3 linked regions of the Homo sapiens genome follow. The protein of the gene in region 3 interacts with the protein of the main gene of each other region in a pairwise test. Each region holds a gene or a part of one and is shown on either strand. Other genes may lie near its edges.

Region 1 (4,927 bases), on a different chromosome or scaffold from region 3:
GGAGGCTGAGGCAAGAGGATTGCTTGAGCCCAGGAGTTTGAGGATGCAGGGAGCTATGATCTTGCCACTGCACTCCAGCCTGGGTAACAGAGCAAGAACCTGTTTCAAACAAAGCAACAAACAAAAAACACTTTTACTCTGAAAACTACAAAACATTGAAAGAAATAACAGATTATCTAAAAAAATGGAAAAACTTCCCATGTTCATGGATAAGACAATATTATTAGGATAGCAATATTCTCCAAATTGATCTATGGATTCAACATAATTCCTATTATAATCCCAGCTGATTTTTGTAGAAATTGAAAACCCGATTCTAAAATTCACATGGAATTGTAACGATCCAAATCAATCCTAAAAAAGAAGAATAATTGGGAGGCTGCATATTTGCTAGTTTTACAACTTACTACAAGGCTACAGTAATCAAAATAGTGTGATAATGGCATAACGACAGACACATAGATCAATGGAATAGAATTGAGAGTCCAGAACTAAATCCATGTATTTAATGGTCAACTGATTTCAACAAGGGTGCCAATGCCATTCAATGGGGGAAAGAATAGTCTTTTCAACATATGATGCTGGGATAATTGGATATCTACATGCAATAGAATGAAATTGAACCCTTACCTCACACCCTATGCAAAAAACATTAACTCAAAATGGATCAAATACCTAAATGTATAAACTAAAACTATAAAACTCTTGGAAGAAAACATAGAAGTAAATTTTCACAATCTGAATTTGGAAATGGCTTCTTATATGTAAGAAAAGCGTGAGCTAAAAAAGAAAAAAAATAAATAAACTAAATTTATCAAAATTAAAAACTTGTGCTTTAAAGGACACCATCAAAAAAGTGAAAAACATCAGAATGGGAGAAAATATTTTCAAGTCATATAGCTGATAAGGGACTTTTATCCAGACTATAGAAGGAATTCTCACAACTCAATAATGAAAAGACAAATAACCTAATTAAAAAATAGGCAAAGGACTCGAATAGACATTTCTTCAAAGAAAATATACAAATGGCCAAAAGCACATGAAAAGATGATTAACATCATTAGTCACTGGAGAAATGAAAATCAAAACCACAGGAAATAACACTTTACACTCACTAGAATGGCTGGAATCAGAAAGTCAGATAATAAGTGTTGGCAAAGATGTTGTGAAACTGGAACCTTCATACACTCCTGGTGGGAATGTAAAACAGTGAGCCACTTTGGCATACAGTCTGGCGGTTCCTCAAACAATTAAACACAAAGTGACCATATGACTCAGTAATTCCCCTCCTAGATACATACCAGAGAAAAATGAAAATATGTCCACACAAAAAACTTGTATATGAATGCTCATAGCAGCATTATTCATAATAGCCAAAAGGTAAAAACAACCCAAAGGTCCACTGAAGATGAATGAAAAACAAAATGCAGTCTGGTCTATCCACACAATGGAATAAAATTTGGTTATAAAAAGGCTGGCATGGTGGCTCATGTCTGTAATCCCAGCACTTTGGGAGGCCAAAGTGGGAGGATTGCTTAAGGCCAGGAGTTTGAAACCAGCCTGGGCAACACAATGAAACCTCATCTCTGTAAAAAAAAAAACACAAAAATTATCCAGGTGTGGTGGCATGCACCTGTAGTCTCAGCTACTCGGGAGGCTGAGGTGGGAAGATCACCTGAGCCTGGGAGGTTGAGGCTGCAGTGAGTCGCGATCACGTCACTGCACTCTAGCCTGGGTGACAGAGTGAGACCCTGTCTCTAAAAAGAAAAAAAGGAATGAAATACTGATACCTGCTACAACATGGATGAACCATGAAAACATTCAGCTAAGTGAAAGATGCCAGTTACAAAAGACCACATATACAATTCCATTTACATGAGACGTTCAGAGTAGAAAAATTTTAGAGACAGAAGATTAGTGATTGCTTAGGACTGGAGGGATGAGTGGTAGGGAGGTGACAGCTAAAAGGTATGGAATTTCTTTCTGAAATGATGAAAATGTTCTCAAGTTGACTGTAGTAATGGTTGGACAACTCTGGAAATATACTAAACTCCATTGAATTGTACCCTTGAAATGGGTGAACAATACGGCATATGAACTGCATCTCAATGAAGCTTTAAAAAATAATACAGTGGGAAGAAAAAGTCTGGCAACTTCTGACTGTCTCCTCAGCCCCCACTAGTCTCTTTTAGCCAGAAAATCCTATCATTCAATCCTCACAACAGCATCAATACCCATCATCTTCACCTACAATTTCCTTCCGTGTTCCTTTTCCCAACTCATACACACACAGCCATTCTCTGTTGCTTGAGAAAGTAAGCATGGGGCAATAGCCACAGCCTTCTTCTTTTTTTTTTTTTTTTTTTTTTTTTTTTTGAGAGGAGTCTCGCTCTGTCACCCAGGCTGGAGTGCAGTGGCTCGATCTCGGCTCACTGCAAGCTCCGCCTCCCGGGTTCACGCCATTCTCCTGCCTCAGCCTCTCTGAGTAGCTGGGACTACAGGCACCCGCCACCACGCCCGGCTGATTTTTTGTATTTTTTAGTAGAGACGGGGTTTCACCGTGGTCTCGAACTCCTGACCTCGTGATCCGCCCGCCTCAGCCTCCCAAAGTGCTGGGATTACCAGCGTGAGCCACCGCGCCCGGCCAGCCACAGCCTTCTTGTAGCTGGAAAGTGAGTTTTAAAAACCAGCAGGACATCAAGCAGAGATGTCCACCAAACAATAGGAAATTCAGGGCAGAGGCAGCAAAGAATGGTTAAAGAGGTGAGATGGGCAGACGGGAAAAACTCTGTCAGGTCTCAGTACTCTAGCTAACATCCTGACTTGTGCATGCGGAGGACAGGGCCAGACCACTCTCTTACCGACAGGGGCCAGCTGATACAGGTGAGCACGCGGTAGAAGCGGAAGAGGTGGACCAGGTAAAAGGCGAGGATCATTATCAAGTCGCAAATGGTGACCACTTCAAAGTAGCTGTAGGCGCTGTAGTTGGTCCACAGGGAGCTCCGCACACAGATGAAGGCAATCAGCAGGGTGACCTGCCACATAAATAGAGACATCAGAGAAATGCTTGCCCAAGACGGGCACCCAGGGAACAAACAACGGAAAACAACCAAGCATCCCCCAGCAGGCCCACATTGAAGAACTGCTATTAATACAATTCAGGTTATTTCCATACACACTGGCTGGAAGGTTGGAAGACTGCAACTTCATGTGGTACACACTTTGAAACTACTGTCTGTGAACACTGATGACAGCAGAGACTGACTTCGTCCTCTCTGAAGTTTGTTAGATTGTGCCAGCGGGAAGCCCCCTCAGAAGAAGCAGGAAAACAAGAAAATAACAAAGCAGAACCATCCCTTTCATCTGCTGGATATCCATAGAGCAAAGAGGACAGCGTGATGGTGACCTGGGGTTTACATATTAGGCCCAATTGTACGAAGTTGCCAATATTTGATGGTTTTTGACCTACAAAGATGGTAATTCATACCTTACAGCTATCAACTGACAGATAACAAGTTACCATTTACTGATGTCTGACATACGTGATCTCGCTAAGGCCATGCAGAACCCTGCCAGGTAGACAAAATCATCCCCATGTTCATAAGGGGAAACGGAGGCATGCAGGTTCAATCATCAGTCCAAGGCTATCTGGCTTGTAAGCAGAAGTGGGATTTGAATCCAGGTCTGTCTGACTCTAAGGACCATGTTCCTCCATGTCAGATGCAGTTCTACCTCCCAAAAGTGTAAGCTCTGATCATAACAAGCCGAGAAAGGTGGACGGGTTCTCAACCATGCAGGAATCCTGTTTAAGAGGTGAGGCTGCTCACCATCAGGGCATGTGGTGAGAGCTCACTAAGAAATATCTCAGCACGAGTGAACATGCTTAACGGCCTGCTACTGAATTAATAACCAGATGAAAACTATTAGCAATGCATGAGTACAAGAAAGTAGAATGAGTAACAGTCTGAGCTTCCGTGAAGGCCAAAGAGAAAACCTGTCTACTCCATGTAGGGAACAAACCAGTAACACACGGGATTCAATGTGTGTAAAATCTTAGAATCTACTTATTTATTTAGTTATTTAGTTTTTGTTTTTCTGAGATAGAGTCTGGCTCTGTTCCCCAGGCAGGAGTGCAGTGAACCAATCTCAGCTCACTGCAACCTCTGCTTCCTGGGCTCAAGTCATCCTCCCACCTTAGCTTCTCAAGTAGCTAGGATTACAGGCGTGTGCCATCATGCCTGGCTAATTTTCATATTTGTAGTAGAGACGGGGTTTTGCCATGTGGCCCAGGCTGGTTTCAAACTCCTGAGCTCAAGCAATCCCCCTGCCTTGGCCTCCCAAAGTGCTGGGATTATGGACGTAAGCCATTGTTTCCAGCCAGGAATCTATTTAAAATGCACAACCAATTTAGAAAAAAGATTATTTTATACACTGCCTCTCTCCTATGGAGGAGTGATTCTTTTTTTTTTGAGATGGAGTCTCACTCTGTTGCCCAGGCTGGAGTGCAGTAGCATGATCTTGGCTCACTGCAACTCTGCCTACGAGATTCAAGCGATTCTCTTGCCTCAGCCTCCAGAGTAGCTGGGACTACAGGTATGCACCACCATGCCCAGCTAATTTTTGCATTTTTAGTAGAGAGGGGGTTCCACCATGTTGGCCAGACTGGTCTTAAACTCCTGAACTCAAGTAATCTGCCTGCCCCAGCTCCCCAAAGTGCTGTGATTACAGGTGTGAGCCACCACGCCTGGCCAGAGCAGCGAGTCTTAAAGTGTGTGTGTGTGTGTGTGTGTGTGTGTGTGTGTGTATGCGTGTGGTGTTAGTGTATGGGTGTGTTAGCGTATGGGTATATGATTTTGTGTCCTATGGGACATTTGGCAATGTGTGTATATATTTTTGGTTTACACAATTTGCGGGGATGGGGGTTGCT
Region 2 (4,927 bases), on a different chromosome or scaffold from region 3:
TTACTAGTGTGATCTATGGAGGACTGGCTCACTCTAGAGAGGATGGGATGATGCTTATCAGTCCTTTGGCCTCTGCCCCTTGTGCCAAGTCTTGAGAGGGCTGATGCATAGCCAGATAGGCAGGCCAAGCTCCTTGAGGCTAGACCTAGACTGCTGCTGGGCTTTGCAAAACCCAACTGGGGATGGGTCCTGGGCTGCTCTCTGTGGTTCTGAAGCACCATCTCCCGCCAGTGTGGCTGCTCCCCCTTAATCTGCATCTCTGGTGTCTCCTATACAGCCTCTGCCAGAAATTCAAAAGCAGAGAGGGCTTTTATTTTCTATCTTCCAAAATAAATTTCAAAGTATTATTGGCAAACTTGAATAGTGACTTCTGTTTCATAATTTTTCATCGCCTTTTGGTTTCATCTTTAGACAGTTTTTTAAGTTATAAGAACTTTTCTTCCCCTGAGAAGTTGACGCACATAAACCCCCTTGTTTGCCACATTAGTGGCAGATCCTACTTCCCCCTCCCCGATTCCTGCAGGGGCTCTCCAAAAACCCAGCCTGAAATCTAAGCATTAGGAAAGAGCCCAGCCAATCACATCCCAGTGGTATCCCCACCCTTCTTCACCTCTCCCAGACTCTAGCCTTGCCCCACCCTCTCAGCCACCAGAGACACTCACAGGGAATCTTGTTTATCTCATTGAATAACTTCTCCTTCAGTTTGGCAAACATGTCCTCCTGGCTCTCCCCAGCACCCCCACTCTCAGTGGAGTTGTCCACGGGTCCAATGGGCATCGTGGCGGTGGTGGTGGCAGGAGCCACAATAGGCTCCTGGTTCCTCTTGAAAATGTTCCTCATGGTGGCAGAGGAAACAGCTGGGGACGAGAGGTGAAGAGGGCAGGGTGAGCATCCAGAGGTCGTCTTACCCTGAGAAAGCCCTGCCCAAAGGACCAGGAGAAGCTCTTTATAGATCAAAGATATTTTGCATAATATTAACAACTGTAGTAAACCAATAATAATAGACATCATCCAATTAGTACACAGTCAGCCTGAGCAGCATAGCAAGACCCTATCTTTAGAAATTTTTTTTTTTTAGTTAGGCATAGTGGGGGCTGAAGTGATAGAGGATCACTTGAGTCCAGGAGTTTGAGGTTACATGAGCTATGGGTGATTAAGTAAGGTTCTGTCTCTTAAAAAAAATAGTACATATATGTGCCAAGCACTGTGCAAAACACTTTCCATGCATTATTCATCTAATCCAAAAAATAACCTAATGGTTTTTATTGGTTCCATTTAACAGATGGGGAAACAGGTTCAGAGAGGTTAGATAGTTTTTCCAAGGTCACTTAGCTGTAAGTTCTGAAACTGAGGTTTGAACTGGTCTGCCCAACTCCAGAGCCTGTATAGCTAATCACTCTCCTATATCTCATTGAAATCTAACCTCACCACTCTAGGAAGGAGACAAGGTTTTACACTGAGGGCTCCTCTTTCAACCTCTCTCCTTGACTTCCAAGGATTTCTAGATACTACTCTGCCTAGAATCTCTGCCCAGCTCCATGACACTTGACTCTCCTCATCCCTGACTCCAATTCCTCCTCCTGCCCCGCGAGACTCCTCAGCTCTCTGCGGTTTCTTCACGGGCTCCCTCAGTGCCCACTCAGGGTTTGTTTTGACCTCTCCTGTAGGAAGACGGCACCCACATCTCCATCTCTAGCCCTTCCTCCCCGGTCTACTCTGTGGCCCCTACTCCAGGTTCATCTCTAGCCCTGCCCCCACATGCAGCTGTAGATTAGCCTTCCCGCATCAAAGATGTGATGTTTATTAATAACATAACCCAGACTTACTGTAGAAAATTTGGGGAGAGAGAGAGAAATCCCCCCATAATTCTACCCTCCAAAGTCAACTAGCATTTGGGGCATTCTATGCTGGTATTTTTTCTGAGTATGTTTTACATGTTGAGACCATACTATGTATAGTTTTTTTTCAAGATTTTTTACATAAAATTTCATCATAAGCCTTTTCCTTTATTGTTTTTTATTATTAAATAGCTACATAATATCCTACTATATGGTAACACCATAATTTTTTTAGCCATTCCACTGGTAGACATTTAGGCAGTTTTCAACTTTTTCCTAGTAAAACACTGAGCATAAATGTTGGTCTTCATTTAAGGCAATGTTCTTACGAGCTTCCAAACTCTGCCCCCCATAATTCTGTCCTCTCCACCAAGCTCTTTCTGCTCCTCAGGGCTATGCACTTATTTCTCAACTGAAAGTCCCATGAGGGCAGATCCTGTGTTGGCAACAGCACCCCTTGTGCCAAGCACACAGCGGGCACTCTGGGTATTTGTTGACTGGGCTCCTCTGAGGGAACATAGCAGCATACACCCACAGGTATTCCAGGATGCAAGAATAAACAGCACAACTCCCTGAGGCATCCGTTTTACTGAATGGCAATTTACAGTATTTTTAAATTAAAACAAGCTGGAAATAATAGAGTAGGATGCATACAGCACAAGAATTTAAAGAAAAAATGTGAGACTTTTCTCACTGCACGTTAGGTATGAGTTAACTCTCCTCTAGACTCAGGGTTCTTCTGAAGGAACATTTTAGGAGCTCTTAAGTTCTGTCCCTTCCTTTAAAAACCTGCTGAGATCCCCTCCCCAGCCCTGGAGACTGCTCCAGCCTTAAGTACTTCTGGTGGCCTGTACATTGATGCAATGTAGGTTCATTCACCAAGCATTTATTTAACTCTTACTGTCTGCCATGTTGAAATAGCCTTGACCCCAAAACTGGTCTTGAAGTGAAAAACCAAGGTCCACTGGACTTCGCCTCTGGGGACAAAGAGATGGGTCCGGTTTGGCGGGAACTGCAAGTAGCCACACAAAGGGATAAAGATGTGTGTCCAGGGCCTTCCGCCATGTCCATCTCCCCTCACTTCTACCACACTGTTCAGGGCTCTGTGACCTTTTTTTTTTAAAAAACAGCTTTATTGAGATGTAATTCACATATGTCACCCTTTAAAGTACACAGTTCAGTGCATTTTATTGTATTCACAGAATAGTGGAACAATTAGCATAACCTAAGTTAGAACATTTTTGCCACCTCAAAAAGAAACCCAGTCCCATTAGCAGTCACTCTCCATTCCCATCCTCTTCCCAGCTCCAGCAACCACTAATCTACTTTCTGACTCTATAGATTTGTCTATCCTAAACATTTCCTATCAATGGAATTATAAAATATGTGGTCTTTGTGACTGGCTTCTTTCATTTAGTATGATGTTTTCAAGGTTCATCTATGTTGTAGCATGTATCAGTATTTCATTCCCTTTTTATTGCCACATAGTATTCCATTGTGTAGATAGAAAACATTTTTTTTTTTTTTTGAGACAGGGTCTCACTCTGTCACCCAGCTGGAGTGCAGTGGTGCAACCACTTACTACAGCCTCCACCTCCAGGGCTCAAGTGATCATCCCACCTCAGCTTCCCGAGTAGCTGGGATTACAGGTGCATGCCATCACACCAAGCTAATTTTTTAATTTTTTGTAGATATGGGGTCTCCCTATATTGCCCAGGCTGGTCTCGAGCTCCTGGCCTCAAGCAATCCTCCCACTTCAGCCTCCAAAATGTTGGCATTACAGGCATGAGCCACCGCACCTTGCCTAGAACATATTTTATATTTATCCATTCATCAATTTATAAATATTTGGGTTATTTCCACTTTGGGCTATTTTATAACTAAATATAGCTAATAATATCCCACTTGTGGGATATTATGAATAATGCTGCTATGAACATCCATGCATAAGTTTTTGCGTGGACATATGTTTTCATTTCTCTTGGGTATATACATAGGTATGGAATTGCTGGGTCATAACTATGTTTGACATTTTAAGGTGCCAGCACCAATTTATGTTCCCACCAGCAATGTATGAGGGTTCCAAGTTTTCCACATCCCAGACAACACTTATTTTTTTATTATACTTTAAATTTTAGGGTACATGTGCACAATGTGCAGGTTAGTTACATGTGTATACATGTGCCATGTTGGTGTGCTGCACCCATTAACTCGTCATTTAACATTAGGTATATCTCCTAATGCTAACCCTCCACCCTCCCCCCACCCCACAACAGGCCCCAGAGTGTGATGTTCCCCTTCCTGTGTCCATGTGTTCTCATTGTTCAATTCCCACCTATGAGTGAGAACATGCGGTGTTTGGTTTTTTGTCCTTGCGATAGTTTGCTGAGAATGATGGTTTCCAGCTTCATCCATGTCCCTACAAAGGACATGAACTCATCATTTTTTATGGCTGCATAGTATTCCATGGTGTATGTGTGCCACATTTTCTTAATCCAGTCTTATCATTGTTGGACATTTGGGTTGGTTCCAAGTCTTTGCTATTGTGAATAGTGCCGCAATGAACATACGTGTGCATGTGTCTTTATAATCCTTGACTTATAATCCATGACTTATAATCCTTTGGGTATATACCCAGTAATGGGATTGCTGGATCAAATGGTATTTCTAGTTCTAGACCCCTGAGGAATCGCCACACTGACTTCCACAATGGTTGAACTAGTACAGTCCCACCAACAGTGTAAAAGTGTTCCTATTTCTCCACATCCTCTCCAGCACCTGTTGTTTCCTGACTTTTTAATGATCGCCATTCTAACTGGTGTGAGATGATATCTCATTGTGGTTTTGATTTGCGTTTCTCTGATGGCCAGTGATGATGAGCATTTTTTCATGTGTCTTTTGGCTGCATAACTGTCTTCTTTCGAGAAGTGTCTGTTCATATCCTTTGCCCACTTTTTGATGGGGTTGTTTTTTTCTTGTAAATTTGTTTGAGTTCATTGTAGATTCTGGATATTAGCCCTTTGTCAGATGAGTAGATTGCAAAAATTTTCTCCCATTCTGTAGGTTGCCTGTTCACTCTGATGGTAGTG
Region 3 (4,927 bases):
AGCTCAGCAGAATGCTAAGTAGTTATTTCAGTGGTGCTGATTGATTTGCAGAGATGGCACAGATGTGACCTCCTCAGTCAAAGTCAATGTTTTCTTGGCCCTCAAATTTCAGAAAAAAATACAAATATAAATGATAAATAATGACAAGGCCCAGATATAGCCTCAGAGTCATTGCCTCAACAATTATTAATGCCTGCTAGGTTTCTAGTACCTTGCTAGAGTCTGACAACAACATAAAAATCATCTAAGACCTATCTCCTGTTCTCTACAATACTCATAACCATAAAGTTGCAAAAAGTATGTAGTTTTAAAAATCACAGCGTGGAGAGGTTTCTTTGCATCATGTATTTTGCTTTTTCAACTAAAAGCTAACAGACAAACATAAGTGTGCCTTGTGCCTAGTCTTCTTTTTGCCTAGAATGTCCTTCTCTTCTTCGTCTTCCTGGAGAGCCTCCATATGTAATTCAAAGTCCAGCAGAGCTGTCACCTCAATGACGTGAAACATCACTGGCCATGCCCATCCGGCAATATCCATCGCTTTCCTTTTATACCCCACTACATCATTGCAATTCATGATACTATTGTAGCTGCCAATGTATGTGTCTAGCTGTCCCACTCAATGAACTCCTGTGGTTGACAATCTTCTAGACTATGGCTCATCTTTAGAAGCATCTCTGGGTAACTTTTAAAAATGCAGAAGTCCAGGTTCCAAACCAAACCCATTGACATAGGATTTCCAGAATGTTGGCCTGCACATCTTCAGTTTACTCTCCACAGATAGTGTTGAGTTGCTACCAGAACACAGAAGCACTTGCTGCGTCTGATTCCTCTTTATAGTTTCAATGCTAAGCCCAATGTCTAGCACAAAGCAGTGCTCACATCATGCTCGTGGACTGAATGAATTGGTTGCATCTGCTTTATTCCTTCTTGCAGGTAAATATCTAAATTATCTGTGGCAACAACTTGGTGGGGTCAACTCGAATGTTTTTGTCGGCTGTTCTTGAAGACTTCTGGGTCTCTACAACCACATTCTTTGGCTGGTGCCAGTGTTTAAGCACTCTGGTAGGTGAAAATATTTCCTTTTGAACAGTGATTATATAAAGTTTTGAAATAAACAAGTTAGAATTTAGAAATAAGAGGGATTTATTGCCAAAATGTGACAAGTAAATAAAAATTAGTTGTAAGCACTTCTCTGTATATTCATACATATTTCCAATTCAGAGTAGAAAAAAAAATCACATTACAGCTTGGTGAGAGAACCAAGTTCTAATGTGGCGTTAGCATACAGAGTCACTTTTATTCCTGACTTGGCTCTCCTTATTTTTTGTTTCTAATGTTTTGGTAAAATTTTGTGACTATTTGTCCCTTCCACTGATTTCTAGTAAGACTTTCCTGAGTTCAAATTTACCTATGTGTTCTCAAGATGCATTATTGGAAGGGAGATGAATTTGGTATTGCCGATAGTTACAAACAGCTGTTACTTCGGCTCCACTCAGGAATAATCTATATACACATTCCTGCAATTGAACACAGCTACTGATCAGTATATAATCCAATTGATTGATGGATCTCAGTGCCTCTTCCTTCATGGTGAATGGAACTAAATAAATAGATAAAATGTGCATTGCACCATGACATGAATTTCTTCCTTTGGTTCCTTATTTTCTATGATGCAGAAACTGCATAGCAGCATGTTTGAAGGTGGCCTGTCAAATTTGGGAAACTGACGGTGTGACTGAGCTAGTCACAGGGGTCTTCACAGAAAAGGCAGTCGGGGTCCTGGTCAACTGGAGATTCCATCTGAATGGTGAGTGAGTGCATCGTAAAGCTTTTGCTAAGGGCTTTAGCAATTTCTCTCCGAACCACTTGGCTGTCCCGGCTGGCTGCTGTTGATAAAGAAGCACAGGGAGATTAGCACTGATTGCACACGCATGGGCGACTGCTCTGACTCCAACTTCAAGTACTTTGTCTTTGACCTGCTGGGGTGGGGCAGAGGCAGGGCACTCAGAGGAAGCCACGTTTGCTCTGATAATCAGCTACATTCACACAGACAAGGCAGGGGAAACTCTAGTGCAGCAAAGTGCCCTGTCGCTATGGGAACTCTTTCTGTCCACTGTTATCTCTGGAGTCTGGCATTCCTAGGAGCTTACTATGGAAGGGGAGACAAGCCCTGGAAAAAGCCAAGACAGAACTATTATTTCTTATACAGCCCTGCTCACCAGCTCCCAGGGATCTCTGGGTTGCAGGCTTTGTATGTAATCAGAATTTATATCAAGGATAGTGACAGGAACCAGGAAGCGTTTAGAGCTCCCCACAGACCTTTCTTAGAGCAGCAACCCTCACTGCCATTTTTTTCCTGTCCCAAATGCTATCAGCAGGCTGTAAAGTCTCCTCCATAGCAACCTGAGTGTTTACTAGATTCTTCCATTTGCAGTGAAATATTGGCATAGTGAATGCTGTAAATTCCCTCAAGTCAGACCTAAGCCCCTTCGAGAAGATGACGATGTCTGAGAAAGCACAGTTTTCAAATGACTGTCACTAGTGTTCCTGTCCCCTGCCCCTAAGTAACTCCTTGAGTCATTTTTTAGCAGCCTAATGTGTTATCCTTGGCCTGAGCTTTCTCTTGAGGCAGTAAATGCCCTCCCACTGCCTATCCTCCCAGCTCTAGGACATATCAGAGACAAAATTAACTTCTTGAAAAAGTAATTTTAGTATAAACCTAGTATTATAAGAATTTTCTCACATGGCTACAGAATTTCTAATCATACAGTGTGGGACCCCACCATAATTCCTATTAGCACATCCATTAGCTTGTTAGAAATTTAAGAGTGGGGCTGGTGTCTCTTTCATCTTCCTATTTTCAGTGCCAGGAAAAACATCTTATACATAGGAGATACTCAATTAAGATTAAGTTTTTAATTCATTCCTATTATTTGACTGATAGGGCACCAAGCCAAACAGATGAAGTTGAATATTCAGAGTCCAAGGCCTTGAAGTGGCGGGTGCATTTTAGTCCTTTGTTCTGTCTGTCCTCAGCCCTCTGCAGTCAGCCCCAAGAATGTCGTGGGTATCATTGTTGCTATGACAACATCAATAAGTGGGCTGGTTTCAAAGGCCCTTGGTAATAGAAAACACTTTATAATGTTTTGACAAGCAACAGACAATAAGGGCAGCTCTACAAAAAGAAGGGAAATTACTGACTTTACAGGACAAGGACTGAATTTTTTCCAGGGTGTTTACAAAACTCACTGACCTGTAGCAACATGAGCTGAGAGAATTACTTGATTCATTGTTAGAGACCAGATGTGCAGGCTGTGCACAGACAGCACCCCGTCGACTGCTAAAATAAGCTCTTTCACACCACTGTAATTCAGGCTCTTTGGCACACCTGACAAAAGGGAAGAGATGGAGGCTGTAGTTATTCAACTAGATACAGCTCATTGAATTACCTAAACAAGCTGCAAAGTCCTCACCAAAATTTCAATGTGTTCATCCCTTTGCTGGTTTCTTACTTCAAATGTTTACAAATAAGATTTACCTGACTACTTCAAGGTTTACCATCAATCAAAATTTCCCACTCAGAATACTTGCAGAATTTACTATGCAATAACCAACAATGGTAATTATCCTTAGTTTTTATGGTATACTATTAAACTAACTGTGCCTTTTCCAACTATCTTTATATACACTCTGGAAAGTAAAATGAAATAACATGAAATTTGGTATCAAATAATCATGGGTTAGCATCCTGACGACAACTATTGTGAATTTACCCAAATCCCAGAACTTCTCTGACCCTCAGCACATTTGTAGTAAAATAAGGGTGTTAAGAACAACACATAGATCACAGAGATCTTTGAGGAGCAATTCAGAAAATATCTAATCATTATGAACAGCAATGTTGTACAAAGATTAGTTACTCAACAGGTCATTTAGTGAACTGTGCTAATAGAGGATCCTAACATTGTATAATACCATCTTATTCGGTTTGTAAGTTTTCTATTATTTTAGCTACATTGGAGGATGCTGTAGAAGAGATGTCTAAGTACAGCCCTTTTTTAGCCTCTACTTCAGTTATGTACAAACAACACAAACACCTGGGGTGTTTATTAAAAATAAATGTACCACGACTCCATTCCAGACCTAAAAGGAAATTTCTATGGATGAAGCTCCAAAATCTAGAGTCTTTCAGAGTGGTTTTCAACCTTGGATGCACATTAGTATTACCAGAGGAGATTTTAGAAATCCTGATGACTAAGTTACACCCAAGACCAATTAAATCAGAATCTCTGTGGATAAGGCCCAACATCAATGCTCATTTGGTGATTCTATCAGGCAGCCAAGATTGAGAACCACTGCACCAACATTCATGAGCCACTGAGCAGCTCTGCTTTGCAGTGGTTCTCTAGTCTGACTACATGTTTTTAAAAATACCAAAGCCAGCCCCAACCCCAGACAATTAAATCAGAATCTCTGGGTGATATAGTTTGCATATTTATCCTTGCCAGTGTCTCATGTTGAATTGTAATCCCTAATGCTGGAAATGGGGCCTGGTGGGAGGTGTTTGGGTCATGGTGCCAGATCCCTCATGGCTTGGTGCTGTCTTTGCGATGATGAGTGAGTTCTTGCAAGATTTGGTCATTTAAAAGTGTGTAGCACCTCCCTTGCCCTTGCTCCATTCCCATCATGTGACGTGCCTTCTCCCCCTTTGCCTTTTGCCGCTATTGGAAGCTTCTTGAGGCCTCCCCAGAAGCAAATGCCACCATGCTTCCTGTACAGCCTGCAGAACCATGAGCCAATTAACCTTATTTTCTTTATAAATTATCCAGTCTCAGGTATTTCTTTATAGCAATGTGAGAACAGCCTAATAACACTGGGTATGGGAGGCCTGAGCATAAGCATTGTTTAAAAGCTTCCCAGAGGATTA

What was found.
Region 1: the proteins of SLC30A8 (region 3) and CMTM7 interact in binary tests that used the Homo sapiens proteins (3 or more experiments, as listed by UniProt).
Region 2: the proteins of SLC30A8 (region 3) and SYT2 interact in binary tests that used the Homo sapiens proteins (3 or more experiments, as listed by UniProt).

Annotation. Positions count from the first base shown.
Region 1 is NC_000003.12:32,439,948-32,444,874, reverse strand, and holds part of CMTM7 (CKLF-like MARVEL transmembrane domain-containing protein 7), read right to left. Parts: intron 3,036-4,927; coding exon 2,862-3,035; intron 1-2,861.
Region 2 is NC_000001.11:202,604,933-202,609,859, forward strand, and holds part of SYT2 (synaptotagmin-2), read right to left. Parts: intron 4,009-4,927; exon of another isoform or gene 1,012-4,008; coding exon of another isoform or gene 841-1,011; coding exon 663-840; intron 1-662. UniProt on the Homo sapiens protein: Exhibits calcium-dependent phospholipid and inositol polyphosphate binding properties. May have a regulatory role in the membrane interactions during trafficking of synaptic vesicles at the active zone of the synapse.
Region 3 is NC_000008.11:117,169,495-117,174,421, reverse strand, and holds part of SLC30A8 (proton-coupled zinc antiporter SLC30A8), read right to left. Parts: intron 3,389-4,927; coding exon 3,254-3,388; intron 1,887-3,253; coding exon 1,741-1,886; 3' UTR 1-1,740. UniProt on the Homo sapiens protein: Proton-coupled zinc ion antiporter mediating the entry of zinc into the lumen of pancreatic beta cell secretory granules, thereby regulating insulin secretion.